Linked DNA regions of Homo sapiens. The protein of the gene in region 4 interacts with the protein of the main gene of each other region in a biochemical or structural test. Each region holds a gene or a part of one and is shown on either strand. Other genes may lie near its edges.

Evidence for each region.
Region 1: the proteins of KIF5B (region 4) and KLC1 form a complex in vitro, tested with the Homo sapiens proteins (one study listed by BioGRID).
Region 2: the proteins of KIF5B (region 4) and YWHAH interact in far-western blotting, tested with the Homo sapiens proteins (one study listed by BioGRID).
Region 3: the proteins of KIF5B (region 4) and MYO5A form a complex in vitro, tested with the Homo sapiens proteins (one study listed by BioGRID).

Annotation. Positions count from the first base shown.
Region 1 is NC_000014.9:103,624,704-103,632,211, forward strand, and holds the start of KLC1 (kinesin light chain 1), read left to right. Parts: upstream 1-4,507; 5' UTR 4,508-4,791; intron 4,792-7,508. UniProt on the Homo sapiens protein: Kinesin is a microtubule-associated force-producing protein that may play a role in organelle transport. The light chain may function in coupling of cargo to the heavy chain or in the modulation of its ATPase activity.
Region 2 is NC_000022.11:31,939,734-31,947,544, forward strand, and holds the start of YWHAH (14-3-3 protein eta), read left to right. Parts: upstream 1-4,801; 5' UTR 4,802-5,000; coding exon 5,001-5,087; intron 5,088-5,100; exon of another isoform or gene 5,101-5,633; intron 5,634-5,766; exon of another isoform or gene 5,767-5,945; intron 5,946-7,730; exon of another isoform or gene 7,731-7,811. UniProt on the Homo sapiens protein: Adapter protein implicated in the regulation of a large spectrum of both general and specialized signaling pathways. Binds to a large number of partners, usually by recognition of a phosphoserine or phosphothreonine motif.
Region 3 is NC_000015.10:52,308,865-52,315,898, reverse strand, and holds part of MYO5A (unconventional myosin-Va), read left to right. Parts: intron 1-1,695; coding exon 1,696-1,776; intron 1,777-2,050; coding exon 2,051-2,203; 3' UTR 2,204-7,034. UniProt on the Homo sapiens protein: Processive actin-based motor that can move in large steps approximating the 36-nm pseudo-repeat of the actin filament. Can hydrolyze ATP in the presence of actin, which is essential for its function as a motor protein. Involved in melanosome transport.
Region 4 is NC_000010.11:32,008,486-32,011,430, reverse strand, and holds the end of KIF5B (kinesin-1 heavy chain), read left to right. Parts: 3' UTR 1-2,416; downstream 2,417-2,945. UniProt on the Homo sapiens protein: Microtubule-dependent motor required for normal distribution of mitochondria and lysosomes. Can induce formation of neurite-like membrane protrusions in non-neuronal cells in a ZFYVE27-dependent manner.

The DNA.
Region 1 (7,508 bases), on a different chromosome or scaffold from region 4:
GCCAGGCATGGTGGCAGGCACCTGTAATCCCAGCTACTCGGGAGGCTGAGGCAGGAGAATTGCTTGAACTCTGCAGGGCGGAGGTTGCAGTGAGCCGAGATTGCACCACTGCACTCCAGCCTGGGCAACAGAGTGAGACTCCGTTTCAATAAAAAAAAAAAAAAAAGAAAGAAAGGAAAAAACACCCTGGAAATCAGAGGAATTGCATTTTTAGAATTGAAGCCTGAGACCAGAGAGGGTGTGACCTGTGGCTGAGAGCAACGCGGGCCAGATCCCAGATTAGCCAGGTCCGGATGCCAGGCAGCCCCTCCCTGGACCAGCACGCCCGTCCGGTGACTCGTCCCTAAGCCTCGTGCTGACAAGGAGGGTGAGCAGGCTGCGGGGAGGGGTCAGAGCTGTGTGGAGTCAACCAGCCTGCTCTTCCCATGGCCTGTGCTTCCCCCGCCCCAGCCCCTCCAGCCAGGTCACCCCTCCCAGCCAGAGGATGGGCACCTGAGTACAGCTGCCAGCCAGGGACAGGCTTCAGGCTGCCTCCACCCTGCCCTTCTTCTTCTCTCCCTCTTTCCTCCCCACCCTCTTCCTCCCTCCTTTCTTCAGGCATTCACAGACAGGGCTGCCCACAAGGCTGCAGATCCTCAAGAACCAAAGGGAAATTCCTGCCTGCTTGTCTCTTCCAAAAAGCCGCTCGCAAAGACAGACATCTACAAACATCTACAGTAAAAAGATGAATAGTGTAAAAAATAACAACTTCCTGTTCCATTCTCCACTTGAGACAAACGGGACTGCATGGTTTGTTGCATGTGGGCACTGCACTTCCTTCCTGTGGTCCCCCCACCTGCCACGGGAGTGTCCCTCTCCCTCATCTCCTGGATCCCCGAGGGACGCAGGGCTCCCCTCTGCACTTCTTCAGGCCTCTCATCTTAGTTCCTGCTGGCCGTCAGCTCACTTGTCCAGGGCACCCGGTTCTGTTGCCCAGCCTGGCACCTGATACTAGCAGTTCTCAATGAATACTGAGAATGACGTGAATATGAAAAATTGTAGGCTCTATGCTTGCCTCCGATGTCCCAGGGGCCTGGCAAATGGCAGAAGGTGGGTAGTTCCCCCCCTCCTTTTTTTTTTTTGAGACAGGGTCTCACTCTGTTGCTCAGGCTGGAGTGCAGTGACACAGTCATAGCTCACTACAGCCTTGACCTCCTGGGCTCAAGTGATCCTTCCACCTCAGTTCAGCCTTCTGAGTAGCTGAGACTATAAGGGTGCATCACCATGCCTGGATAATTAAAAAAAATTTTTTTTGTAGAGTCAGGGTCTTACTATGTTGCCCAGGTTGTCCATGCCTTTTAACCCCAGGCAGTACCTTAGGAGCCCAACCTAGGAGCTGCTAACGGCTCCAAGGACTGCAGGATCTCCTGAGGATCATGGCAGAAGTCAGGGACTTAAGGGACCCGAAGAGTCTGCTCCCCTTGAAAAGGGAGCAAGAGCAGCATCTCTGTGCAAAGGAAGCCTGGAGAAGCAGCAGCCCAGCCCTCCTCTCATGCTTGCTTGAGGGTTGCCCTTGCAGCTGCGTCAGGTGCTGAGCAGGCTGTGGGGAAGAGGACACCAGCCCCTCCTGTTCTCTGCTTACAGGCTGAGGAGAAGGCAGCTGTGTAAGCTGACCACATACTACACATTGGGGAAGGGACAGGTGGGTGGTCAGAGGAGGCCTTGACCCAGGCAGGTGCTGTCAGAAGCGGCTTCCCCCAGGAAGTGACGATCATTTGAATCCTGGAGCACTGGGGGGAATGGGGGAGGGAGAACATTCTAGGCACAGTGAATACTATGTACAGGGGCATGGCTATGTGAGAGACCAGGGTGAACTCAGGAACAGATAAGGGTGTTCAGAGCACAGGAGACCAGGAGGTTGGCAGCACCAGGCCCTGGGGGCCTTGTTGACCAACCCAAGGAATTTGAAGTTGCTGCAGACAGTGATGCGTGGCAGCACTGGTGGATGAATTGGCCTTTTCTCCTTTCCCCCAACACTCCAGGGTCATTCCTGCCTGAGGACTCCTGCCCTCAGAGCTCTCCTGGGGCTTTTATTTATTTTGTTTTGAGACAGAATGTGGCTCTGTTGCCCAGGCTTGAGTGCAGTGGTGTGATCTTGGCTCACTGCAACCTCTGCCTCCCAGGTTCAAGCGATTCTCCTGCCTCAGCCTCCCGAGTAGCTGGGACTACAGACGTGCGCCACCACGCCTGGCTAATTTGTTGTATTTTAGCAGAGATGTGGTTTCACTGTGTTGCCCAGGTTGGTCTTGAACTCCTGAAGGCAATCCACCTGCCTCGGCCTCCTGAAGTGTTGGGATTACAGGCGTGAGCCACCTCGCCGGCCTCTCCTGGGGCTTTGAACGCCTGCCTCCCTCCTCTCATTTGGGTCTCAGGTCACCCGCCTGCCTCTGAGTTCACCCCTGACCACCTAGACTCTGCCTGTTCCATCATCTTTGTTCCATCTCTGCCTGTTCCATCATCTCGGCAAGATCCGGTATTTCCTTATGTGTTTATGGCCTACTTCTCCTCACTGGAATGTAAACTCTTAGAAAGCAGAGATCTTATCTATCTTGTTCACCTATGCATCCTTGGCTGTTATGAGGATCATGGGAGAGCAACAAATATTTATTGAGGAAATAAAAGAACAAGGTAATAAAGCCAGAACAAAGTGGTGGCAGTGGAGATGGATTCAAGAAATACTGAGAGGCCGGGCATGGTGGCTCACACCTGTAATCTCAGCACTTTGGGAGGCCAGCTGGGAGGATCACTTGTGGCCAGGAGTTCGAGATCAGTCTGGGCAACATAGCAAGATCTCCTCTCTGCAAAAAATTTAAAAAACATTAGCTGGGAGTGGTGGTGCACACCTGTAGTCCCTAGCTACTTGGGAGGCTGAGGCAAGAGGATCTCTTGAGCCCAGGAGTTCGAGGTTACGGTGAGCTGATTGCCACTGCCCTCCAGTCAGGGTGACAAAGATACCCTAACTCAAAGAAATATTGAGGAAGTAGAATCTTTTCCACCTGTTGTAGTAGGGCGTAAGGGAGCGGTGCAGGCATCCCAGGTTTCTGGCTAGGGTTGTGGGTGAGCAGAGGGGACAGTTACTGGGCGCAGCGGCACAGAAAGAATGAGCAGTCGATGCTTGGCGGTGCCCAGCCCAGTGGCTGAACTTAGTGACATCCAAGCTGCAGTCTGGCTGAAATCACTAACCTGAAAGTGGTATGGAGAAAGTTTGTTTGACCCTGACTCAGTGCCTCTCCCCGGGCCAACCCTACCGTGTTACCTAGGAGCTCCCCCTTTGTCTTTATAAATGAGATAAAAGTAACCAGACCTCCCTGGAAAAACCGAGGAGCACTTGCTTCTCTGGTGACTGCGGGGCCTAACTGCAGGGTTCACAAAGGGCTGCTGGTGCTGGGTGATAACATCGGAAAGGAACAGCAGTTCACAAGATGGGGCTGGGGGACTGGCCCAGGAACCCCTCCAGGTTAAATGATGCCTCCGGGCCCCGCACTTGGGACGTCTGCAGGCACTGGGAGGGTTTTTCCCAAGCCGCTGGCAGCAGCGAGCGGAGCCTCGCCCATTGAATCAGCATGCCCTCCCGGCTGGCTGCTGAGTCAGGCCTGCGGAGCCGGCGAAGCCGCAGGACTTGACCCAGGCGCGCTCCGCTGCCCTTCAGGCCGGGCTGGAGGTCGAGGCCCTGCAGCCAGGGAGATGCGCCGGTGGCTGCGTGGGGACAGAGGGGGGTTGTCTCCCACCCTCACAGTCTACACCCCGGCCCTTCCCCTTTGCCCGTCTGAGGCGCAGTTTGTGTCGAGGGGGAGCGCCTGGAAAGTTTCCTCGTACAGATACGAGGGTCCAAAAGCCCCGAGGAGAGGGAATAATGAGAAGGGGAGGGCGCAGGGTTAGAGGTCAGGGTCTCGACCAAAGGCTGTCGGTTTTCCTGGAGGAGGGAGAAAGGCCTGGCCGGGATCATCTGATTCCGGGGCCTCCCGAAGGCCTCCTAGCTGGGTTTTGGGGGGACCGAAACGAGCGCATGAAGCTCGCGGGCCTGGGAGTGGGGTGGGGCGGGAGCCCAGTGGTGGCGGCTGCGGCCGGGCCTGCACCGTCCCCGGCCGCATTCTGGTAGGGCCCACAGTCCGGCTGGAAGGGAAGCTGCCGAAGCGCTCGGTCATCGCGGCTGCGGAGTCGGAGAGGCCAGGGCCTGGCCGCCCACCCCGCGAGCCGCGCCCTGCCCCGAGCGCCCCACCCCCGTCCGCGTTACAACCGGGAGGCCCGCTGGGTCCTGCACCGTCACCCTCCTCCCTGTGACCGCCCACCTGATACCCAAACAACTTTCTCGCCCCTCCAGTCCCCAGCTCGCCGAGCGCTTGCGGGGAGCCACCCAGCCTCAGTTTCCCCAGCCCCGGGCGGGGCGAGGGGCGATGACGTCATGCCGGCGCGCGGCATTGTGGGGCGGGGCGAGGCGGGGCGCCGGGGGGAGCAACACTGAGACGCCATTTTCGGCGGCGGGAGCGGCGCAGGCGGCCGAGCGGGACTGGCTGGGTCGGCTGGGCTGCTGGTGCGAGGAGCCGCGGGGCTGTGCTCGGCGGCCAAGGGGACAGCGCGTGGGTGGCCGAGGATGCTGCGGGGCGGTAGCTCCGGCGCCCCTAGCTGGTGACTGCTGCGCCGTGCCTCACACAGCCGAGGCGGGCTCGGCGCACAGTCGCTGCTCCGCGCGCGCGCCCGGCGGCGCTCCAGGTGCTGACAGCGCGAGAGAGCGCGGCCCTCAGGAGCAAGGCGGTGAGTCCCCGGCGTGCGCCCCGGACCGCGGCCCCCTCCTCATCCTCCGCCCCGTCCCTGTCCCGCTCCTCTTCGGACCCGCCCCGGCCGTAACTCTGTCCCCATCCAGGCCTCCTTCCCGGTTTGGGTCCCGGCCCCTCTCCGTTCCCACCCCGGTACCCGCCCCAGTTCACCGCCCCGGCCGGTCCGCGACCCCTTCCAGGTTCAGGTCGGGTTCTTGTCCCCGGCCCTTTTGCCAGCCCCGGCTCCCGGCGCCGCGCGTCCTCCCCATCCGCGTCCCACTGCAGGTTCCGGTCCCCGGCCCTGCCCAGGGCCCCGCCCTGGCCCCGCATCCCCGGCTTGGCCCTGCTGCGGGCGGCGGCGGCCGTTCCCGGGGACAGCTGTGGACCCCGGGAACCCGCGACAGGGGAGGTGGCTGACCCCGGGATCGCGGCGGGCGGGGAGGCCGGAGGCCCGGCGGGGCTGGCTTTGTCCGATTCCTCCTCTTCCTTCCACCCCCGCCTCTCCCGGCACCGCCCTGAGCGGACGCGCCTGTCATTCTCGCGGGCGGCGGGGGGCCGGGTCCCTCCCGAGAGCTGGCTCCGCTTTGCCTCCTTGGCGACCCCTTATTTTCAGTAACCAGATGCGAAACGTTTCAGGCGACCCTGTTCACCTAGGCTGGCGTTGCTCCAACTAAACTTGAAGCAGCCTCCGTCCTGGAATGCTTTTTCCATGTAAAATTGGGTGTACCCTTTTCCTTAAGAAAATTAAAATAAAGCGTAAAAGTAGTGAAATTAATGCGTGATGGAGTGGATGGTTTTATAACTTAACATTTGTAGGTCATTTCTAGGTATATTTGTATTAGAATTGTTGCTGCCTGTTACTGTTTTATTATTTAAATGAATTAAGAATTTACATATTAAGCGTTTGAAAAGGAATACTTACAAAAATGATGTTTTTTAAAAATGTGAGAACAAAAAATTTGAGATATACTATTTCAGGTGTTCTGTAAAAGGGCAGTTAGAGCTTTGATTCTTTGCATTAGTTAAATCCCAAGGCCTTTTTTTTTGGTACGGCATGACTAAGCCATTGATCAGAATCAGCTCGGAATACATTGCACTAGTTTAGTGAAAGACACTTTAGAAAACTGGAAGAACCTCCTGAAGTTATATTACAGACATGGCCTTGCTTCTTTCAGGGATTGTCAGCAAGCCTGTTATGGTGAGAAATTTGACCTATTGCTCTGTTTCCTAAATATTTGTAGGAATACAATGATACTAAGTATGAAGTATATTTCAACTTGTATGGAATTCTGTGTGGGAGGGTAGGCACTCTAAAGAGCCAGTGTCTCTCCAAGTCATCAAAGAATGCAGCATCATGTTGCAGTTGAGCCTGGCAGCCCTGTCTGGCACTGAGTGCTGTGGAGGACCCAGGTGGTAACCTCTAACCCTACTGCAGCCTTGGCATTGTCTTAGAGAAAAGCATCCAGACATGCACAGGACTCTGGACAGCGTTTATCTCCAGCAAGGGGGGAGGGAATGACACTGGGGAGAGGCACACAGTATCTTCAGTATTTCATAGCAAATAACTGCAGTCGTTTAAACTTACACATTTTTTTTTTTTTTGAGATGGAGTCTCGCTCTGTCGCCCGGGCTGGAGTGTAGTGGCGCGATCTCGGCTCACTGCAAGCTCCGCCTCCCGGGTTCACGCCATTCTCCTGCCTCAACCTACTGAGTAGCTGGGACCACAGGCGCCCGCCACCACGCCCGGTTAATTTTTTGTATTTTTAGTAGAGATGGGGTTTCAACATGTTAGCCAGGTTGGTCTTGATCTCCTGACCTCGTGATCCGCCCACCTCGGCCTCCCAAAGTGCTGGGATTACAGGCGTGAGCCACCGCACCTGGCCCAAATTTATACATTTTTAAAATTTATACATTCTTAGGCATGTTTCTCAATGTTGGAAAAAAGTCAATGTGTAACTTTCTGTATAGGGCCATAAATTATCTTAAAACATACTTGTATAAAAAGAAACCTAGGATAGAAAAATCAAAAGTTGAGTGAAATGTATGATTAGTATCACCTGAAAACATTCTTTGTAGATAAGTGGAATGTTAGAAACCAGTATTTTATTTTTATTTATTTAGAGATGAGTCTCACTGTGTGGCTCAGGCTAGAGTGCAGTGGTGTGATCCCCGCTCACTGCAACCTCCGCCTCCCAGGTTCCAGTGATTCTCCTGCCTCAGCCTCCCTAGTAGCTGGGATTACAGGTGCCCACTACCACACCAGGCTGATTTTTTGTATTTTTAGTAGAGACGGGGCTTCACCATGTTGGCCAGGCTGGTCTCAAACTGCTGACCTCAGGCGATCCACCCGCCTCAGCCTCCCAAAGTGCTAGGGTTACAGGTGTGAGCCATTGCACCTGGGCTGAAACCAGTATTTTATGTAGCAAAGAAATGATCAGTAATATACTCAAGACGAGAGTATTTGGGAAGATTTAAGTGTCAAATTTCAGGGCATAGAATAAAAGTGACAAGCACATTAAGATTGCAAATACTGGTCTTAAATGTCTGTTGGGAACCAACTGAATGGCAGGTACTGTGCTGAGTAGTCAGCGATACCTTGATAAAAGAGCCACTGTTGGCCGGGCGTGGTCATGCCTGTAATCTTAACTCTTTGGGAGGCTGAGGCTGCAGATCGCCCCTAGCTCTTTGGGAGGCCGAGGCAGGTGGATCACCTGA
Region 2 (7,811 bases), on a different chromosome or scaffold from region 4:
CCGGGATTCAAGCGATTCTCCTGCCTCAGCCTCCTGAGTAGCTGGGATTACAGGTGCCTGCCACCACGCCCAGCTAATTTTTTGTATTTTTAGTACAGATGGGGTTTCACCATGTTGGTCAGGCTGGTTTCAAACTCCTGTCCTCAGGTGATCCACCCACCTTGGCCTCCCTAAGTGCTGGGATTACAGGCATGAGCCAACATGCCTGACCTTTTTTTTTTTTTTGAGATGGAGACTCACTCTGACGCCCAGGCTGGATGGAGTGCAATGGTGCGATCTCAGCTCACTGCAACCTCTGCCTCCCGGGTTTAAGCAATTCTCCTGTCTCAGCCTCCTGAGTAGCTGGGATTACAGGCGCATACCAACACACCCCGCTAATTTTTGTATTTTTAGTAGAGACAGGGTTTTGCCAAGTTGGCCAAGGTGGTCTCGAACTCCTGACCTCAGGTGATCCACTCGCCTTGGCCTCCCAAAGGGTTGGGATTACAGGCATGAGCCACCACGGCTGGCCAGTTTTTCTTTTTTAAAAATATTTTTTGTAGTCTCAACTACTCGGGAGGCCAAGGCAGGAGAATTGCTTGATGAACCTGGGAGGCAGAGGTTGCAGTGAACTGAGATCATGCCACTGCACTCCAGCCTCAGTGACAGAGACAGACTTCATTAAAAAAAAAAAGAAAAAAAAAATATAAAATGTGTGTGTGTGTGTGTGTGTGTGTGTGTGTGTGTGTGTGTATTTTGTTTTCTGTAGAACTGGGGTTTTGCCATGTTGCCCAGGCTGGTTTTGAACTCTTGGCCTCATGTGATCCTTCCACCTCGGCCTCCCAAAGCTCTGGGATTACAGGCATGAGCCACTGTGCCAGGCTATTGGTCCCTTTTTACAAGTGACTTGCCGGAGGGTACTCAGCTGGTGCACTGGCAGGGTAGGATTCGAACCCAAGACAAGAACCACGTTCTTTCTCAAATCACACCACACACGTGTGTTCAGGAACCCGGGGGGGGGGGCGGTTTGTTCTGTTCCCCGAGTGAGACCCTGTACCAGGTGAAGACCCAGACTTGGCTCCTCTACTGGGGACCTGCTCTGAGCCCTGAGGCAACAAAGTGTGTTTGACATTAACCATTGACCTCCCTCACCTCACTCAGGTGCTGTCTTTGACGTTGTTCAAAGGCCCTGTTTATCGATAGGACGTAGAGCCTTGGGAGTAGGTGACCTGTCGCAGGTGGTGACCCTGATTTTTATTGATGAGGCTCTTGGGCGTTAGCAACTCTCTCCCAAGGGCAAAGAAGATGTGTGCTGGTAAGAGTGTGTAGGCCACATGGTGGGAGGCTTATGTATGCTTTGTATAATCTGAGTGACCCCAACAGGGAGTCACACTTTGAGCTCTTCTCAGCTGACACCACGGGGCAGTGTGAGGCCCTCAGACTTGGGTGTCTGATGGATCTGAGTTTGAATCCTTGCTTTGCCCATTCCCAGCTGTGTGACTTTGTTTAAACCATGGGACAGCTCTGTGTCAGTTTGCTTATCTGTAAAACGGGAAGGAGGCCGGGCTCAGTGGCTCACGCCTGTAGTGCCATCACTTGGGAGGCCGAGGTGGGTGGATAGCTTGAGTACAGGAGTTCAAGACCAGCCTGGGCAACATGGCAAAACCCTAGCTCTATTAAACAAACAAATTTTAAAAACTGGCTGGGCGCAGTGGCTCATGCCTGTAATCCCAGCACACTGGGAGGCCGAGGCAGGAGGTACATTTGAGGCCAGGAGTTCAAGACCAGCCTGGCCAACCTGGTGAAATCTCTATTAAAAATACACACAAAAAAATTAGCTGGGCTTGGTGGTGCATGCCTGCAGTCCTAGCTACTCGGGAGGCTGAGGCAGGAGAATAGCTTGAACCTGGGAGGCGGAGATTGCAGTGAGCCAAGATTGTGCCACTGCACTCCAGTCTGGGCAACAGAGCGAGACTCCATCTCTTAGAGAAAAAAACAAACCAAAAAAAAGACTAAAAAATCCATTTAACAGATGAGGCACAAGAGTTTAAATAATTTTCTCTGAAAAAATTAGCTGGGTGCGGTGACGTGCGCCTTGTAGCCCCAGCTACTTGGGAGGCTGAGGCAGGAGGATCGCTTGAACCTGGGAGGCGGAGGTTGCAGTGAGCTAAGAGAGCACTATTGCACTCCAGCCTGGGTGAATGGGTGAGACTCTATCTCAAAACAAAACAAAAGCCAACAAACAAAAAAACAGGAAAGGAAATCGGACCAGCCTTACAGGGGTATCTTGAGGGAAAAAAAAATGCACGTTTCTGCAAAGCACCTTGCCTGGTACTAGGAACATGGTAGATGGTTCCTTAGAGTGCATGAGGATGGGGTCACCAAGGATAGGGCAGTGTGTGAAGAGGGCTCGGGACAAAGCCCTGAGGAACCCTAGTATTTTGGGGTAGGCTAGAAGACAAGCCCATACAGCAAATAGAAGAGCAATGGCCGGAGCAGCAGAAGGGAAGCTGGGAGAGTCGGTCAAGGAAGGGTGAGCAGTCGTGCCCAGTCCAGCCAAGAGGGCCAGGGAGGTGGGCACTATGAAACCTCCTTGGCTTTGACAACAAGGAGGGCTCTGATGGCCACGGTGGAGGAGTAGGGACAGGGTGAGAGCACACTGAGCTGATGGGTGGGTAGGAGGTGAGGAAGAGGAGATGAGGAAGTTTGGTGAGAAGAAAAGCTTCATGGGAGAACCAGAGTGTCCTTTACACATGTCAGAAATCAATTATTTAGAATGCTCCAGCTCTACCTAATTTTCACTGTTTTGAAATCAATCTTAGTCCAACCTCATCAGAAAAGCTGGAAGGGCTCTAAGCCCTCTAAGAGCTAGAAGGAACCGAGGAGGTCCCCCCATCCAGGGCTGGCCCTCCTCCCATCTCTCACTGGGACCCCATCCTTATGGGGGGTGGAGTGGATGATTCATTACTATCTAGCATGCTCTTTAAATATATTCACTAGGGGAAAGATTAGCCTGGTTTGTTAACCTCGATTCCAACAGCAAAAGTGACTCTTCAAAGCATGGTGAAGCCTGGGGTAGTGGCCTCCTCCTAGACCCACATTCAAATCCTGTTTCATGGGCCCCCAGAAGTGTGATCGTTTCAGCATCATAGCAGGAAGAGGAAGGCCTGGGAGGCAGGAAACCTGGTATGGAGACCCCAGCTCTGCTCACTCGCTGTGCAAACTAGGGCCAGCCCCTCCTTTCCCTCAGACCTCAGTTTCCCGTTATTCAGGATAAGGGGTTAGACAGGGGTGATTCTAAGGGTCCTGCCAGCTCTGACATTTCAGCATGTGGATATCTATTCTAAAGTCCTTGAAACAGTTAAGTCCAATTCTCCAGATGGAAAACAGGTCCAGAAAAGGCCTGGTCTCCAGTTCCCTCCCTTCTCCCTTCGAACATGTCTTACTCTCTAGAGCAAGATTCCAGGCCTGAAATATGGCTTCCCAATTACCTAAGGATGAAGCCTCAAATCTTTGGCCTGGCATTTAAAAGACTCCGTAATCTTGTTTTACCCAACCTCACTTCCCATTCTTAGGCCTCTCTTCTCACCATCTCCCAGGTCACTGCCAAGCCTTTGCCAATGCTGTACCCCAGGCCTTAATCTTTTTCCTGACTCTCCTTCAAGATCCAGCTTATCCCTGTGGGCTGAGCATGCAGTAGATGCTCAATAAAATTCTCAGCGAGCCCAAGGCCCCCTCTCCTGCACTGCCCTTGGCGTGTTGAAATCAAGTGGGGGCCTTGTTTTAATCATCATTTTCCTAGCTTGTCGGGCAGCCCAGTCCAGGGCCTGGCACAAGGGACCCTCAGCATCCAATACCAGCCAGGATTGGGAGGGGCTCAGTGACCAGCCAGTTGGGCCACCCCAGCTCTTTGCCACAAGAGAAAGTTCAGCCTGGGTTTGGACTCAGATCCTGGCCCCACCACTTACAGGCTGCGTAACCCTGAGCAAGTCACTAACCTCGCTTTTCCTCAGGTTCCACGTTTTAAATATGGGGAGACCAGCTGTGCCCACTGTGGGCTGGGTAGTGAGGATTAAAGAGGAGGATGCTTGTACGGGACTAGCACTGGGCTGGCTCCTAATGTGTCCTGAATATTACTTGTCCCGCCCTGGCCACCCAGTCCCCTCCTCTGGTGGAAGGCACAGCCTGCCCAAGGCTACGTCTCAGGTTGGGTTCGATTGTGTGTGTCTGTGTAGCGGGGCTGTCCCCGAGGGTCGGACTCGATCCTGCCCGGACCAGTACAAGGTGTGGCCCAGCAGAACGCATGGACAGGCAGGGCTCGGGGCGGGCGGGACGGCTGGGGCGGGGCTGGGCGGACCCGCCCCTCGGGGCACGCGGTCTCCCGGCTTCTCCGCCAGTATGTTTGCTTGCTTTTGGGGCCCTTCTCAAGCCAGATCTCTAACGTGGATGGAGTGGCGCGTTTCAGGGTGGGGCTATGACAATGCACTGCCTGTGCAGCCGCCATCACCGCGCCCCCTCCACCGGCTCCGCAGTCTCCTGCCCGGCTTTCCCTTCTCCACCTCCATCTCTGCGGCGGTAAAATGCAGCACTCGCAGAGCGCCTGCGCGGCTTTCAGGCCGGGCGGCGGCGGCGGCGGTGGCTATTTATAGTAGGTGACGTCACCTTGAAATAGACCGTTAGGGCCGGCCCGCCCTTCCCCCCTCCCACTCCCGCCGCTCCCCGCCGCCCGGCCTGGCCACTCTCACTGCGCAGGCGTCGTCCCGTCCTCCCATCCCCCAGCGCGGCCGCGTCTCCTCCCTCGGCGTTGTCCGCGGCGCGAGCCACAGCGCGCGGGGCGAGCCAGCGAGAGGGCGCGAGCGGCGGCGCTGCCTGCAGCCTGCAGCCTGCAGCCTCCGGCCGGCCGGCGAGCCAGTGCGCGTGCGCGGCGGCGGCCTCCGCAGCGACCGGGGAGCGGACTGACCGGCGGGAGGGCTAGCGAGCCAGCGGTGTGAGGCGCGAGGCGAGGCCGAGCCGCGAGCGACATGGGGGACCGGGAGCAGCTGCTGCAGCGGGCGCGGCTGGCCGAGCAGGCGGAGCGCTACGACGACATGGCCTCCGCTATGAAGGCGGTGAGCGCGCCGGGAGCCCGGGCGGCTGGCCGGGGGGGGCCTGGCGTTGGGGAGGGACGGGGATGGCCGCGGGCGCGTTCCCCTCCCGGCCATGGGCGACCCGGCGACCCGGCTGGGCGTGGCCGCCCGCCCGCCCTTAGCCCGCGCTTCCCGCTCCCGCTGGGCGCCCCGCCACTTCCTGAGGCTGGGCCCAGGGTGGGGGATCCGGGAGGGTGCAGTTCGGGATCGCGAAGGCAGCCCCGGAAGGGGGGCGGGCCGGTCGGGGTCGCCACATCTTAGTTCGGAACCCGGCCGGGGGCAGAGGGTGCCCTAGGGGACGCGAAGGAGCCGCATTTCTCCTAGAGCGTTTCACCGGACCCGGGGGCTCCCCCTCTCGTCTTCCTCCGTTCCCCAACTTGGAATAAAGAATCACCTAGTAAGTGGCGCCCTGTCTCAGCTGGTTTTCTCTGCCACGACCTGAAGTCTGCAATTCCGATCTGTTTTGCTCTGCTCGTTCGAATTGTTCTGGTTCCATCTTCCCACGCCTGGGGGTCTGGCTTTGTGTGCGAAGACCCCTTTCCTGCAGTCTAGGCGTGGACGGGGGCGGGAGAGTGGGCGGAGGGTGTGGGGCCCCACTCCACAGCCCCAGGTTTGCTGCTGCGCTGTCTGCTTGGAGATTAAAATGAAACGTGACTTCTAGGTGAGACGAATCTGTGTGTCTTTGCATTCCTGAGACCCTCATAAATCGATTCTGCAGCTTCTCCGGTGGATGAGTCGTGCCCAGCCACACCCTAGCAAAATACCGTGGGTCACACACCACCTGCATTTCTGAGTTCCGGTTACCATCTCACTCTCTCTCCACGTTATTTTACGTTTTCTGTAAATGAATATTTCCTCTCCCTGCGTCAAGGTCACACAGTGGTAGAACAACTGCGACCACCAACCTATGTTCAGTGTACAACCTCCTGAGACCTGGGAGGATCCCCTTGAACTCCGCCTTAGACCTATACATTCAGAAATTCGGGCGGTGAGACTCAGACATCTGCATTGTAACCAGCTCTCACAGGCGATTTTTAGCTGGCTTAAGTCTGAGAATTACTGCCCATGATTATAGTAAATGTATCCTTTGCTGGCCTTTTGGAGGGAGTTCCGAAAAAAAACTGCCAATACAAAGGCTCCCTAAAATCTTAAGTCATTTGGAAAGCTCATTTGAAGGCTTTTGATGTTAATATCAGATGAAATATGTAGTTGGGGCCAATATTTAGGATTGTTCAGGTAAGAAAGGTGCTTGAAGAGTTGCCTTTCCTCTGGTGTCCTTGTTACACACATAACTGGGTGTGTTTGGAAACCAGCAACACCGTTGCCCGTATGTTGATTTGTTGGTGATCTTGACTTGAGCACTATTAGCATGCTGTTGTGGTGAGGCAGGTTTTCTTCCAGACCGGGGGACGGTCTAGGTCTGGAGGCTGAACTTTATGTAATTCAGGGGGTCCTTTAAAAGAAAATCTAAAATATAGTTTTGCATATTTTACAAAAATGGGACTGACGAATGCATTTCCTTGGAAGGGACCCTGAACCTTAATTTTCTGTGGGATAAAGCTGCCTCTGTCCACAGCAGGTCACACTTAAGCCCCTCCTCCCCAGTAACTGAGTGGTGCTGGGATTATGCAGGCTGAGGCCTCTCCACACATTTTCATGAAGTGGTTGCTCACCCTCTAAGTGAGACGTAAAGACTGCAGTGTTCGGAGCCCTTTGGGAAATAAATGTGGTGAAAAGAAAGGAGGGACGAGGTTTAAAGGAAGGGGAAATGGAGGTTAAGGAAAAATGGCTAGAAGGTGTGTTCTGGAACAATCAGAAACCTGAGGCAACTTGAAATGGGGGAAAAAGGCAAGAATGGAGAGATGTTACCAGAACGAAATCTAGTTTGAGCAGAGAAAAAGACTGGCTTTCTAGTAGGCTTGTAAAATGCTTTCCTGCAGCAAGCTACTTGTGTCCATAGATCTTCTCTGGAGGGTTAAGGTAGCCTTTTGTAAACCAAAGGAATCTATAATATCTATATTTGAAATAATTAATGAGTTGGAAAAGCCACCCAGCGTAGAAGAGTCAATCCAAGCTTTAATTCTGCCATCTCAGAATGGTGATAAACCATTTCTCCCCCATCATCTAAATGGAATATATTGTGCTTATAGGTATTTTCTTTAAAAGAAAAAAAAGAATATATTGGAAGGGACTGGCAGGGGTCACTTTCCCTGCTAACTTGGTGTTTGTAGATTAAATTCTTAATGTTACTGGGATGACTCAGTCTCTATGTTATTAATCTCATCAGCCTTAACTAAGGCTTTTGGAAAGGGTGTAAGTTTCAGTAACCCTCTGGGTTTACCTGGGCTTTCTTCAGGGCTGGGGAAGGGCAGGTAAGTAGCCTGCTGTAGGGAGGATGGAGCAGGACACATGTGTTAAGGATATATTCTGATGCCACCAGTCTGTAACCTTGAAACTTACATCTTGGCTTTAGGTCCTCTGAAGTATAAAACTAGTGATGTTGCTGTTATTAACAAGTCAGTTTTGCCTTCAGTCTTCTAACTTGTTTTCTGTTTCCTTCATAATTAAAATGCTCACTTGATAATACTGCCTTCCTGTAATGATTGATGTTCCTCATTCTACCAGCGTCACCTGGAGGACAGTGTTGGTAAGCTTGAAGAAAAATCGTGCATACTGGAAACAATGGTCTTGCCTCAAACCTGTTGA
Region 3 (7,034 bases), on a different chromosome or scaffold from region 4:
CCAATACAATTAAAACTCAATCAGTTTGAGACCAGCCTGACCAACATGGTGAAACCCCATCTCTACTAAAAATACAAAAATTAGCCGGGCATGGTGGCAGGCACCTGTAATCCCAGCTACTCTGGAGGCTGAGGCAGGAGAATTGCTGGAACCTGGGAGACGGAGGTTGCAGTGAGCCAAGATTGCACCACTGCACTCCAGCCTGGGCAACAGAAAAAATCAGTAGGCCAGGCGTGCTGGCTCACACCTGTAATCCCAGCACTTTGGGAGGCTGAGGCAGACAGATCACCTGAGGTCAGGAGTTCAAGACCAGCCAGGCCAACATGGTGAAACCCCATCTCTACAAAAATACAAAAATTAGCCAGGCATTGTGGCGGGTGCCTGTAATCCCAGCTACTTGGGAGGCTGAGGCAGGAGAATGACTTGAACCTGGGAGGCAGAAGTGGCAGTGAGCCAAGATTGTGCCACTGCACAGAGACTTCATCTCAAAAAAAAAAAAAGTCAATCAGTAGACAATCAGAATCAAGACTTGCAGCTTCTTAATGTTGAATTCATGTTTGCATAACTTCTTACTAAGAATAAAGCAGAACTATCTGACAGAACAATGGTCCTGAGATTTCCTCCCAGTTTCTGCAAGTGTGGAAAGTAAGAATACCCTGGAGGAAGCCCAACTTTATAGAAGTTGGCTGCCATTCAACTTCTAAAGAATATACTTTAATACTTAAATATACTTTAAGCATATTTCACAGAGTGAGGCAGACCTGCAGTTTATTTATTTAGCAAATATTAGTTAACAAAGTGGTCCCACTTTTTAAAATTCAAATACTTGCCTCCGAGAGACTGATCCCTAATTCAGTTTGTCACCCACAGACCTGATAACAACATGCCCACTTTCTAGTTCTCTGGTGCTTAATTTATTTTCCTATAGATCAGCACTGTCCTGCATTCAACTTTTATTTTCATTTTGTGTTAATAGCCACATGTGGCTAGTGACTACTACTGTTGTATTGGACAGCACAGGTTTAGACAATACCTTGAAAATGGAAATATCTACCTTATATAGACGATGATTTATTTTCATTAGAAAAGAGACATGACCATTTTACAAAAAAAAATTATTGAACTTTTTAAAAAAGAACTTCATACTCTCTAATTGATTAATTTCTTTAGGGGCTTTTGTTATTCATGTTATTTATGATCTTTTATAAAAATATGATTTAAAAAACATTCAAAAGAGATAATTGTATTAATACGGCTAACATTTTTATATGGAGAAAAGTTGCAGAATAGTATTAATAGAATGAATCCCATTTGTATAAAAATAAAATGAACTAGAATATTTATAGCAGCTAGAGGGGGTGTTCAGGACATGGTTAACAATTGCCACTTTGGGAGACTGGAAGGATGGAAGTGCGGACATTTATTTTTCATGTTTTATTCTCTTGTGCTATTTGAATATCTTCGAAATTTACACAGCTTCTTACAATATTACACAAACATTACATTGATACATTCTCTTGTAAAAATTCAGATAAAGGTAAATGTGCAGACCAGCTCCTCCTTCCTTCTGGTCCCAGCCCACCCCTGAGTAGAACTGAAATCTGTACGCACAGATCCTTTTAATTTTCCAGATTATAGGTACCCAGTGTGTATTTGATAATATGCCAAAAACTTTGATCATTTCATTTCTCACAGATTGTGAAAGTGTTGAATTTGTATACTCCAGTTAATGAGTTTGAAGAAAGAGTCTCTGTGTCGTTCATTCGTACTATACAGGTAAGAGCTCCCATCTTCTTCTTTGATTCACCAACACAGTCTTTTGAATGGACATTTTGTAATTTATTGAAGGATAATGTGTTATCTTTTATTATCTTATTTTACAATGCACTAACTTTTTTGATAATAGTTAATTGGGAAAATGAAGTGAGTTTAAAACAAAAGTAAACATTCTTCATTAGTTGAGAATTTGAGGGTAGAAATTTTAGTAGAAAAAAGTCTTTTAGATTCAAAGAACTGATGCTCTGTTTATTTTTTTTCCTAATCTTCTCAGATGCGTTTACGAGACAGGAAAGACTCTCCCCAGCTGCTCATGGATGCTAAACACATCTTTCCTGTCACCTTTCCTTTCAACCCATCTTCCCTCGCACTAGAAACCATCCAGATTCCAGCCAGCCTCGGCCTGGGCTTCATTTCACGGGTCTGAAAGTGATGTCCAGGCAAAAATTGACAATACATTTCTTGCCCGAAATAAGAACCCATTATTTCCAGTGAGTTACTGAAAATACATTTTTAAAGAGAAAGTACTGATTATCTCCCAAATGAGAAGTCATTAACTGGAAATCTCCCTAGAATACTTTCATCACTTTGGAAACAAAGATAGGCTCTTTCGTGCTGTGTTATCTTTATAGCAACACTCATCCTTAACCAACTAGGTACCGTGAGTTTACATACAGGAGAATGATGGAAGGAAGGGAGGAAGGAAAGGAGGAGAAAAATGTGTCTTCAGCTGGCAGCATTTATTTTAAATCCTTAGCACTGAGTTTGAATGGTATAAAAAGTATAACTTCCATAGATGAGCTGTTGTTAGGAAGGCACCAAAGAACCTCCTCTGCACTAAACAGGAGAATGGAAAGAAAAGTCTCCATTGAGTACATATCATGTCAGTTTAGTAATCAATTATGTTGATATTGTTAAACTGGTTCAAAGAAATAAACTGGCAATATGTAAAGTAATTCCTCATTTGTGTCACTATGATATAGAGATATTAAAGGAATGTTGGTTTGCTAAATAGTATAGATGTCCATTTGTACTATAGTTTACTGAGCATTTTAAATTGCTGCTACATACTGTCTTCTTAAAATGTAAGTGATATTAGGCACTACAATAAGTTTCTCTTGTCAATTCTGTTTACAATTCAATCAGATCACAGTTTTAACTGGATTATATGCAAATACCTACAGATTCACCTGCACAAGTAGCAGACACTGGAAAGTCATGTAGTAATATGACAAAATGCTTGACATTTAGGGGTAGGATTAGACAAAGTGGCTATTGTTGATGTCATTATTTATTCAGGATGTATTACATTGATGTGCTCATTAATTTTCCCTGGGTGGATATTGCGTCAGGGTACAGTGTTCTGTGAAGTGACTTATTTTTAACTACCAGATCTGATTCCTTCAGTGCATATTTTCAACCTTGACAGGTTTTCTCTCTTCTTAATTTATTAAGAATTAATCTCGGCTGGGCGCGGTGGCTCACGCCTGTAATCCCAGCACTTTGGGAAGCCAAGGTGGGCGGATCACTTCAGGTTAGGAGTTGGAGACCAGCCTGGCCAACATGGCGAAACCCTGTCTCTACTAAAAATACAAAAATTAGCCGGGCGTGGTGGCACTTGCCTGTAATCCCAGCTACTCGGGAGGCTGAGGCACGAGAATCGATTAAACCTGGGAGGCGGAGATTGCAATGAGATCGAACCACTGCACTCCAGCCTGGGTGACAGAGAGAGACACTGCCTTGGAAAAAAAAAGAATCTCACTCACTATCTAGAGAGGATTGTCAGAATATTCACGATTCAGGTCTTGAAACTTTGATTATGCAAAAGAAGGTATATAATAAATATTTCATTATGATTCAGTTTTTAAGGCTTTGCAGCTTCTATAAGTGTTCTCAGATGCCACTAGATAATTTTAAAAGCATCATATTAGAAATACTTTAAGAAGACTTATATAAGAAATAGAAGATTGTTGAATTTTACAGAGGATTTGGTTCATTAAGACCCAGATTCTGTAAGTTTTCATTCTGAAATTCTAGTTAAACATATTCACCATTTTTCTTAGGAATCTTATACAATAAATCCTTCAGGTTGCACAAAAGCAAATTATTAGTTTTCATTAGAAACTCTGGTTCTGAATTACAATCATAGGTTATATAAATTTAACTGTTAGATGGTCTATAAATCTTATTAAAATATGTGCAATATTTATGGAAGTCAAACAGCTTCATATCAGTGATAAAGATTGTTATTAAAAGATAAATACTGTCTGTTAATTTACATGGGCCTCAAGTTCCTCGTTTATAAAATAAGAGAGTTGGACACTGATTCTTAACATCTCCTCCACATTTAAAATTCTCTCTTCTCAGCCCTTAGATTCTAGAGAGAAAAAGCTGCAGTTACTCAGTAAGTCCATTCTCTGATGGAAAGACCAGTGTGTAGTGCCTGTCAATTCCTTAGGATTAATCAAATGTAAAATCACAAGTTTGTGTAGCTGTAACCTTTCTTAAATGTACATGATTTATGTACATGCTTTTAGAAGGTCCTACTATATTTGTATTATAATTAGTTTAAGTAATTTTTATTACATCATGTATTGCTTTATTCAGTTTGAATACATTTATTTATTTATTTGCAGTATCAACCAGAAACACTACCAATTGCATCAAATTCTCCCAGTTTTTCCTGGTTGTCAATGCGGTTTTCAATGCACAATTAAGTCATAGCCATTTGGTTCGTACCAAATGTGTCAGAATCTAACAGCATCCGATAGGCTGTAAGTTGGGGAGTTGCTAAGAAAATGCAACGTGGTACAGGCTGTCCGCCTCAGCCCTGGAAATCTCCCAGACCTCCCCCAGCTTCATCCTGTGTAGCACGACTCAACGTGCACCCTGAATCTTCTCAGGTCTTCCAGGTCATGCTGTAGCTGTCACTGCCATGCAGCCCTTTTTTTTACTCCGGACAGCTCATGTACTGAAGCGTCATGAAAGAAAGGCTGTGGTCTGAGCCCTTCTCTCCCATCTCCTGTCTTTGTCCTGTCAAGTGCTGGAGCCAGAGCTCCTACAGCTGCCCTTGGTGGTTTCTCCTGTTCAGCGATGGTGGCACAAAGGTTCTGCTATTCCAGGGCTCCAGCTTCCTCCCAGGTCTACCCAGAGCTCCAGATGGGGGTCTGAATTAACCTCTCTTGGTGGCCTGGAGATTTTTAGTCATTGACAAGAATACCTTGTAACCAGGGAACCCCAAGGCCCAGTAAATGATTCTGTATACCATTTTCTTGAAGGTACAAGAAGATTCTGCCGACTATGGGGATCTTTGGGCCAGTTTGAGGATTGCTTTCCCTCTGAGGTTCTTTCTCTCTGTCAGCCACACTTTCTCACCCAACTTCAGACACACCCTGCCAGCCTTTCCCCTACTCATTCACTCTTCCCCTTCCCTCAACTTAATCGTCTATCCCGTTGCCTGCTGTTTGACTGTGCACTGAAGGCAGGTGGATGGAGTCAGTCCTCAGTTGCCCCTGCTGGCCTTCCTGGTGCTTACCATCAGCCCAATCTTTGCACAGTCCTTGTTGTTCTTACTTCTCTGCATGCATTCCTTCAGAAGATCAGTCATCAACTTTTTCTTAATTCCTCTGTGACACACAATGGGAATTCAAAGGAAGAGATCTTAAAAGTCACAACAGTTCTTTATCTTAATAATCCCCTCCCCATTCACCTTACTACATGCAGACTCACCTCACACCCTTACAACTTGAAGCTGAAAATTTAAAAGTAATTTCCCTTTTTGCAGCTTTTCCTCAGGTTAAGGCTTTGATCTGCCTGAGAGTAACTCTAAAAGGAGGGAAGATAAATATGGGATAAAATCCACAAAGTGTAGCTTCTAATTCCTTTGGAAGTTTAAAAAATTTCCACATATCTGATGCTTCTTTTGTCAGGTGCAGAAGCACAAAAACATATTCCGAAGCCAACTGATAGGGAATTTGGGGATTATTGTCAGTTTGGAGAATTTGCTGTGTTATTTCTTCATTTCCATGGATAGCTCATAGTTGGCTCTTTCTGGGTGAGTAATTATGTGTAATATAGATCAAATCTTTTACTAAGGTTACAGCTACATGTTAGGGGAGGCTATGAAAATACTATATTATTATAATTTCAGTGCAGTGATTGTTGTGAGAAATAACTTTCATGGTAACCCTAGGAAAATGGGCACCTGCCACCATCCTGAGAAGTCCTCACACAATGCCCTTTCTCTCTTACACACACACACACACACATACACACACACACACCCCCGTCACTAATTCATAGAGTTCCTTAGCAGGCATAGTCAAGGATCCTCTGGGTAATGTCAGCTGCTTAGTGATAAAACAGAGCCAAAACTAGTGCATCCTGTTGAAAGTAATGCAGAAACAGTACCTGGGTCCAGATATGCTTTCCTGCGGCGCTTTCCTCTGTTACCTCGTTTCATCCTCACAGCAGCATGGACGGTAGGTGGGGTCGCTTCTACAATCATTTCTGATGATAGCTTGGGAATAGAGATAGGGGCAGTGACTTGCCTGATGTCGCACAGCCCTCTGGCTGTCCTGCTTTCCCATATGGAGCAGTGGTGGTGTGGGCACCTGTGATGCAGGAGACTTTAAAAATGTCGTGAGGTCACGTGCTGCCCCTCCTGGTACGTGTGGAATGCCCCTGGCCAGCAAGGGGTGCTTTTTTATCAGAGTTGGCAGCTGGCATGTGGGAACCGAGCAAGTGCTGCGTACCAAGTTACTTGTTTTAAGGAGACCAAGTGCTCAGCGCCAGGTGGTTTTCTTTTTTGTCATAGTTACTTGCTATAACTCAGCTTGACTTCTGTCATGAATCAGTGCTCTCTGGGAGGATGCAATACTCTGTTTGGGCATTAATTGGTAGCAGGTTGTCTCAACCAAAAAGACAGGAAACAGCAAAAGCCTCTCTGAAATTAAGAGGAAAGTTACTCTCCCCACACCCATCAGAGTCTTTATTGGAGCCACCAGGTGAGCTGTGCAGCCTGGACAGGCCTGCAGCTATAGGCCACCTTCCCAGTTTAGGTCCTCAGCACAGGGGAGCCCAAGTCACTGGGTGCCTTCCGAGGGCTGTCACTGGGCAGGCCATATACAAGTCAGTGTGTGCGTGGGCACTGCAGTGTGTGCATGCCGTAGGTGTTGATGGGTGCTAGGAGGGGTGTCGTGTGCATGCGCGTTGAAGAGGATCTGTATTGCCGTGACCTCTGTTCATGGATGAGTGCA
Region 4 (2,945 bases):
AATTATAACTTTTAAAAAAAATGTATAAATTATACCTGGCCTGTACAGCTGTTTCCTACCTACTCTTCTTGTAAACTCTGCTGCTTCCCAACACAACTAGAGTGCAATTTTGGCATCTTAGGAGGGAAAAAGGACAGTTTACAACTGTGGCCCTATTTATTACACAGTTTGTCTATCGTGTCTTAAATTTAGTCTTTACTGTGCCAAGCTAACTGTACCTTATAGGACTGTACTTTTTGTATTTTTTGTGTATGTTTATTTTTTAATCTCAGTTTAAATTACCTAGCTGCTACTGCTTCTTGTTTTTCTTTTCCTATTAAAACGTCTTCCTTTTTTTTTCTTAAGAGAAAATGGAACATTTAGGTTAAATGTCTTTAAATTTTACCACTTAACAACACTACATGCCCATAAAATATATCCAGTCAGTACTGTATTTTAAAATCCCTTGAAATGATGATATCAGGGTTAAAATTACTTGTATTGTTTCTGAAGTTTGCTCCTGAAAACTACTGTTTGAGCACTGAAACGTTACAAATGCCTAATAGGCATTTGAGACTGAGCAAGGCTACTTGTTATCTCATGAAATGCCTGTTGCCGAGTTATTTTGAATAGAAATATTTTAAAGTATCAAAAGCAGATCTTAGTTTAAGGGAGTTTGGAAAAGGAATTATATTTCTCTTTTTCCTGATTCTGTACTCAACAAGTCTTGATGGAATTAAAATACTCTGCTTTATTCTGGTGAGCCTGCTAGCTAATATAAGTATTGGACAGGTAATAATTTGTCATCTTTAATATTAGTAAAATGAATTAAGATATTATAGGATTAAACATAATTTTATACGGTTAGTACTTTATTGGCCGACCTAAATTTATAGCGTGTGGAAATTGAGAAAAATGAAGAAACAGGACAGATATATGATGAATTAAAAATATATATAGGTCAATTTTGGTCTGAAATCCCTGAGGTGTTTTTAACCTGCTACACTAATTTGTACACTAATTTATTTCTTTAGTCTAGAAATAGTAAATTGTTTGCAAGTCACTAATAATCATTAGATAAATTATTTTCTTGGCCATAGCCGATAATTTTGTAATCAGTACTAAGTGTATACGTATTTTTGCCACTTTTTCCTCAGATGATTAAAGTAAGTCAACAGCTTATTTTAGGAAACTGTAAAAGTAATAGGGAAAGAGATTTCACTATTTGCTTCATCAGTGGTAGGGGGGCGGTGACTGCAACTGTGTTAGCAGAAATTCACAGAGAATGGGGATTTAAGGTTAGCAGAGAAACTTGGAAAGTTCTGTGTTAGGATCTTGCTGGCAGAATTAACTTTTTGCAAAAGTTTTATACACAGATATTTGTATTAAATTTGGAGCCATAGTCAGAAGACTCAGATCATAATTGGCTTATTTTTCTATTTCCGTAACTATTGTAATTTCCACTTTTGTAATAATTTTGATTTAAAATATAAATTTATTTATTTATTTTTTTAATAGTCAAAAATCTTTGCTGTTGTAGTCTGCAACCTCTAAAATGATTGTGTTGCTTTTAGGATTGATCAGAAGAAACACTCCAAAAATTGAGATGAAATGTTGGTGCAGCCAGTTATAAGTAATATAGTTAACAAGCAAAAAAAGTGCTGCCACCTTTTATGATGATTTTCTAAATGGAGAAACATTTGGCTGCATCCACATAGACCTTTATGTTTTGTTTTCAGTTGAAAACTTGCCTCCTTTGGCAACATTCGTAAATGAAGCAGAATTTTTTTTTCTCTTTTTTCCAAATATGTTAGTTTTGTTCTTGTAAGATGTATCATGGGTATTGGTGCTGTGTAATGAACAACGAATTTTAATTAGCATGTGGTTCAGAATATACAATGTTAGGTTTTTAAAAAGTATCTTGATGGTTCTTTTCTATTTATAATTTCAGACTTTCATAAAGTGTACCAAGAATTTCATAAATTTGTTTTCAGTGAACTGCTTTTTGCTATGGTAGGTCATTAAACACAGCACTTACTCTTAAAAATGAAAATTTCTGATCATCTAGGATATTGACACATTTCAATTTGCAGTGTCTTTTTGACTGGATATATTAACGTTCCTCTGAATGGCATTGATAGATGGTTCAGAAGAGAAACTCAATGAAATAAAGAGAATATTTATTCATGGCGATTAATTAAATTATTTGCCTAACTTAAGAAAACTACTGTGCGTAACTCTCAGTTTGTGCTTAACTCCATTTGACATGAGGTGACAGAAGAGAGTCTGAGTCTACCTGTGGAATATGTTGGTTTATTTTCAGTGCTTGAAGATACATTCACAAATACTTGGTTTGGGAAGACACCGTTTAATTTTAAGTTAACTTGCATGTTGTAAATGCGTTTTATGTTTAAATAAAGAGGAAAATTTTTTGAAATGTAATGACTTTCTTAAAACTTAAGTGTTAGGTTGATTTTACATGGCTGAGTTCAGGCCTTCTGTCTTGACAGAATAGTGACTGATATGTCATTATATTTATGTATATTTTGTTTCCTAATGTCTTGCAGCCTTTTGGACCGCAGATATTAAATGTATAGGCTAAAGAGCTAGAAATGAATGACCAGTCTCACATATAAAACTTTTTTTTTTTTTTTTTTTTTTTTTGAGATAGAGTCTTGCTCTGTCGCCCAGGCTGGAGTGCAGTGGTGTGATCTCGGCTCACCGCAACTCTTATCACCTGGATTCTAGTGATTCTCCTGCCTTAGCCTCCCAAGTAACTGGGATTACAGGCATATGCCACCACGCCCAACTAATTTTTGTATTTGTATTAGAGATGGGGTTTCACCATGTTGGCCAGGCTGGTCTCGAACTCCTGACCTCATGTGATCCTCCTGCCTCGGCCTCCAAAAGTACTGGGATTACAGGCGCGAGCCACTGCACCCGACCGGTGTCACCTGTATTTTACT